2 separate regions of the Homo sapiens genome follow, and region 1 is linked to region 2. The links come from fine-mapping of genetic effects on gene expression. A gene starts in region 2. The other region holds a variant in brackets. All regions are shown on one strand. Distances are from middle to middle.

Region 1 (2,915 bases), 80 kb before region 2:
AGATTTTGTATACATAAATTATTGAATCAACATACAAATATATTCAATGATATATATATAAGATTACATTGTATACACTATATTTAATGAGATTTAGGAGATAAACCACTGCCCCTTTGGATACATTTCAATTTTGGGTTGGTATCTGTTTGGCATTTGTATTATAGCTATCATATCTCAATCAGTTGTTACAATTAGACTATTATAATCTATTGTATAGACGGTGTTTCTATTTAAAATTAAAGAATTTGATAGCATGAATCATAACATACAACCAGTGGTGCACTAGACCCAGCTCATACTGGCTCCCCAAAGTTAACTTTTTCTGCCAAGTCCATGTTCAGTAATTTCACATTGGAAACTTGAAATCAGCCATGGTAGAAGTATTTACACCAAACAAATGGGCAAGCACTTTAAATCAGGGAATCCTCCACCTCCAAAAGCCAGTTGTTACACATTTACCAAAATACCACTGAATATAGCCTAAAATTCTCCAAAATTATATTCTCTTACCATTCATTAAGCCATCTTAAATATTTTATAGAAAAAGGAAAACATGAAGAAATACAGCTGGGAGCACATGAACGTTGCATCCTTTCCCACATCTATATTCTCACTCTGAACATGACTGATTTCATAAAAACTGCAAAACAAGTTTTGCCCCTAAGACTGTGCGCCTTTCTTTTAGAGAACATCAAGGCAAGATCTTGACCAAGAAATGCAGTTAGATATTAACGGAAATATGATATTATGTCTTACTAGACTAGCCTCAAAGAAAAATGCCTTAAGGAGTACAGCAGTCCCCGCCTTATGTGAGGGTGATACATTCCATGACCCCAGTGGATGCTTGAAAGCAGATAGTAACAAACGCTACACATACACTACGTTTTTTCCTACACATATATACTTATAATAAAGTTTAATTTATACATAAAGTACAGTAAGACTAACAACAATAATAGAACAACTATAACAATATGCTGTAATAAAAGTTACATGAATGTTTACACTTTCTCTATCTCAACATATCTTCGTATTTTCAATCCACAGTAGACTTGAAACCATGGAAAGCAAAACCATAGATAAAGGGGAATTACTGTATACAACGTGTCAGCTAAATTCAGAAATTAATCTCTGGGGAATTATTCAGTGTTTCAACTTATACACACACACATACACACACACACACAGTTGCTCCTTCGTGTAGCTTTTGGACATGAAGTGTATTCCAGATCAAAAGCTTCTGCCATATTTTTTTCCTTATACTTTAGACAAGAATGACAGGAGGTTGGACAGAAAATCACCAATGCCTAAAGCAACTTGAAACAAATTTTCCATTCTACTTTCACAAACCCTCATTTGTGATGTGCCCAAAGATACAATCAGGTATATTGTCTATACAACTCACCCAGAGTCAATACAACTGCACAGAAACAACAGAATACGATCTTAATAGTCTTTTC[T/A]CCTCCACTGTGCATTTTAATTGCAGCTAACAAAAACCTTTATTGTATTTACATCATTCAGATTGAAGCTTTCCACACCAATTACTATTTCCACAAGCAACACATCTTTTTACCACTCAACTGTTTGAACAGAAACGTGTGCCTTTTTTTTTCTAAATGTAAGGGCACATCCTTTTAGTCCTGAGAGTATACTGCCCCTTTTTAATCAGGCTGACATGTTTGAGAACTAAGGCAAAGCATGTAATGTCTTAGTCACTCTGGTCCATCATATGTATGAAAAAAAGAATGACATTCTTCTCCAATATTACCTTAGCAAAACTATTTCAATTGTGATTATTTTTAGTAATCAACCATTGTCTCTGAAATAAATATAAATCATGCACACACTTTTCAGCAAATATATTCTTTTCAATCTCTAGAAGTGAAAATCTAATATTGGTAAAAAAAACTTGTATTTAAAGCAGAATAATAGCTATTTCACACAAAAAAACTCATGCAATCAGGAATACTGGAATGTTCTGGCTGTTAGTGTTACTGTTGGCTTAATTATAAATTTTAAAACCTATCAAAACAACCCTTAATTATAACCATTAAAAAGTTAGTAAACTAAATCCCCTTTCCAAGCTTTTAAATAAAGAGTATTACTCTTCTATCAACCATAATGTGAGTATGGTAAACATATATTATCTCTTAGTATTCCCCACAGCAATGAGCTTGTTCCTTTGAAGATTTGGGACTTTAAAAACATTTTTTTAAGATATTAGTTTTATACTAGTATTTCAGGATTCCAAGTGGTCTTGGGTTCTCAAATTCCCATTAACTATAAAGAAAAGAGATGAATGCAAAAAAAATTTCAAGTAATACTAACAAGACTACATCTTTAGATTATGGTATTTCACATTAAAATATTAAACCAAGTAACTTACACTCTATTCCCTTGAACAATATCCACATAATCTTCAGATCGTGCATAGTATCCATCAGGACTCAATGCTCCCCAGAAATTGGACCACAGCTTTCCATGACGAGTTACAAGAGGAGCAATGATCTTTCTAAAGACAGAGAGAGTGTGTGTGAGAGAGAGAAACCTATATAATTATTTATTTTTAAATTACCACAGAATTATGTATTTTGGGCTTAGTATGACATATAACACAAGAAAGCTCATTCAACAAACCTGTAGTTAATAAAAATAAAATAAGGATCTTCTTTCCCAACATCTTTTCTTAAGTAAGTATATTGCTAATTTTCAATCATATTTCTTAAAAAGAGTAACAAAGAAGGAAAAAGTAATTGAAAATGCTAATGAATACATAAAAATGACTTTTAAAAATGCCTTGCTTACATCCAACAGAGGGAAACTACTTTAGTTATTTAATTATATTTAAGTTTAACTAAAGTATTTCGGAACCTATATTAAATGAAACCAAATATTTTCATTGTCACTGGGTG
Region 2 (2,915 bases):
CTAACAAAGCAAGCACTGTTTTGTAGAAAGATAGGCAGTTCAGCCTGCTGACGCTTTCTGAAACACTTAAAGATGAAGACAAAACTATCGCTACATGGATTAGCTGGACTGCAAACCAAATGTCACTTTCTGAATGTAACTCTGAAATAGAAATTTCTGTCCTTAGGCTTAAGAAAAGTTCAAGTAGAAAAGCACTCTATTATAAACTTGGGGGAAAAAATGGTGCCAAGATGACTTAACAAAAAACAAAACAAAACAAAAAGGACATTAGAAGGTCATTTAAATGCAAGATCTAATTTCAGAGAGTTGAGCACAAAGAGCACAAATGTGGAAAACTCCAAGGATTTTTCATGTGCCACAAAAGGCAGCAAAGCATGTTTAGACAGACGTGGTGAAACTCTCTTTAATCTGGCTAAATATAAAACGTTTTGTTTTACACAGCTTCTGAAAACGAGAGACAGCACCGGGCTCAAGAAAAGGGTAGGTAAGGGGAGCAGCTGTGTGTCCACAGCTTCCCCTTCAGATCCCAAAGGAAGAAAGCTGCCGCCTGGAGGTACTGGGTAGCCAGGCAGCCTTACTGAAAACAACTAAGGTTTTCGAGCGAGCGTTGTTTTTGGCAAGAGGGAGGTGTTACCGGCTGCTTCCTGGGGTGCTGGAAGGAATGTGTCACCATCAATTAGAAAGTACACTAAGCCCCGTGTTTAGGTCACAGAAGGAGTACTGCCTCGTCCATCAAGGATAAATCCATGCCAACTCTCGGAAAGGAGGGGAAAGGAGAGCTGCAGGAAAGGTGTTGGTGCCCATGACCTGCAAGTCCAAAAGGAAACTCCAACTTGTTCTGCAGGGAAATTCGGGCACGCTGAGTTCACCGAGAACTCCAAGGAGTCAACGAGGGCGGGTGCCCCTACACTTCCCCAGGGACCAGCGCCGCCCGACCGCAATTCTGGGGAAGACCCCGGCGGTCCTGGAGAGGAGGGACAGGCCCCCACTACTCACCTGGCCAGCCCCGCGGAAGGGCTGGTGGATGAATGAACTGCCCCCCCGCCGGCCGAGCCTCGCGGGACAGCGGCGGACCGCGGGGTGCTCACCTGTGGGGATGCTCGAGGGCTTCTCCGAGTCCGCACCCAGACAGGGATTCCAGGGGTGGAGGACGAGCGCCAGGAGCAGCAGCTGAGGCTTCACCGTGCATCCCCCCATATTCGGCCCTCGAGGGCCGCGCGGGCTCAGGCGCCCACGGCCCCGCAGCGCCGCGCTTCTCGCGAGAACGCAGAGACCCGGGTCCGCCCTGAGCCGCCGATTGCGGGCGGGAGCCGGCGGGCAAGGCGCGCGGCCGGCAGCCGGAGCGGCGCGTAACGCAGCTGAGTGAGGTCGTCGGTGGAGGCACGGAGCAGCAGGCGCCCGGGGCGCTGCGGAGGCCTTATAGGCTCCCCGAGGGGAGGCGACGGGGCGGGCCGCGCCCTGGCTATTGGCCGCCGGCTGACCCGCCGCCGCTGCGCGCCCGGTGCGGTCGCCTCAGCTCGCCCTCCTGGGCCCCACGTCTGGACTGTTTGCTCAGCGCGGACGCTATTTAAGGAGCTGCCTGCGGCTACGTGTGGAGGCTCACGCAGCGCTTCTGGCTGGAACGGGGAAGCCTGCACTTAGCTTTGGGAGTGGGTTTGGGAGAGGGAGGAGGAGCCGCCGGGAGTCTGGCGGGAGGGCGGTGTTCCCGTCTGGGTTCCTCTCTGCTGTCCCAGCCCCGGTAGCTTCCACAGCAGCCTCGAAGGGTGAGAATTTGCTCTTCTATGGACTTGGATACTCCACCCAGTCTGAAGTGACTGCAAATCTGCGGCAATCTTGGCTGACTGGGACCTCGCCAGACTCTTAAGCCATGGAAATGGATCGCCCCTCATTAATTCAGGGGCAGGTTCATCACCCTGTAAAAGGAAGGCCGTGATTTTATTTTACTCCGTAAACCGAAAGTTTTATTGTCCAGTGAACATTTCTTGCTCCGCCGCTTGTGCCAAGAGAGCCTTAGACTCTTTCCAGTAATGAGGCTTGTAAATCCTGCGGAATCGGAGCCCAACGTGTGTAATGCCGGGGCTGTGCTTACAAGATCGTGCTCCAGTCCGCATGGAAAATTACTCCCAAAGACGTGGTCGGAGAGGTCGAGATCTCTGAGCCTTGGCCCCCACTGCTTCCACTTTTGACTGATGTCTAAGAAAATTCCCTTTTTTCTGTTCTCACATTTTAACTAGCCAAGGGTTTAACTTGTTGGAATGAGTGGGAGCAAAAGCACAATTAAGAAAAAAGCTTGACAGTTTTGCCTCATACATTTAATGACATAAGCTATTTTATAGGAGAAAGAGAACCAAACTGCTACCATTCTGGAATCTCCTGCCTAAATTTTCGTGAAATTAGAAAAAAACAGAATCGAGACAACACCCGTTATAACTCTGGGCCTTTGAAATTAAGACAGAAAATTATGGAAAAATGTGTTCCATTATGATCACGTTTTGTCTAAAATTAACATATCAAGATAACATGAACTTAATGCTTTCATCTTGATAGCATTAAAAACAGGTGGAAAACCCTGCAAAGAAATCTTGCCTGGGATGTGACATTTTAGAAAGAATCATTTCCTGTGCCCAGAACTAAGCCAGTTATTACTCTGTTTTGAAGGTTTGGTCTCAGTTTTTTAAAAGAAGAGGAAAACTGGAGAAAGTTCTGAGAAGAGTAACAAATAATTAAAGAAGTGGAAACTATGACCTGTGAGAAGAATGAAATAAGGTTTATTTAGTCTGAAGGGGAAAAAAAAAGCTAAAAGATGGATTCCTTAATAACAGCCTTTCATGTGTGGCAAGTACAGCTTCATAAAACTAGGCACAAAGCAAACAGCATCAGTCCTCTGAGTCCAAGGACTCTGCTAGGAATGGCTG

The links. PIP is the estimated chance that this variant, and not a neighbour inherited with it, causes the effect.
Region 1: its variant is fine-mapped to the expression of PLOD2 in spinal cord (GTEx, PIP 0.95).

Annotation. Positions count from the first base shown.
Region 1 is chr3:146,079,349-146,082,263 of GRCh38, forward strand. PLOD2 (procollagen-lysine,2-oxoglutarate 5-dioxygenase 2) reads right to left here. Exons shown (of 20, transcript NM_182943.3): 12 at 2,390-2,515. Among named protein-coding and RNA genes, the nearest start is that of LNCSRLR, 12 kb to the left of the region's middle. The variant T/A (reference allele first, on the strand shown) is at 1,464.
Region 2 is chr3:146,159,793-146,162,707 of GRCh38, forward strand. It overlaps PLOD2 (procollagen-lysine,2-oxoglutarate 5-dioxygenase 2), which reads right to left and starts at 1,392. Exons shown (of 20, transcript NM_182943.3): 1 at 1,089-1,392. The coding sequence starts at 1,197.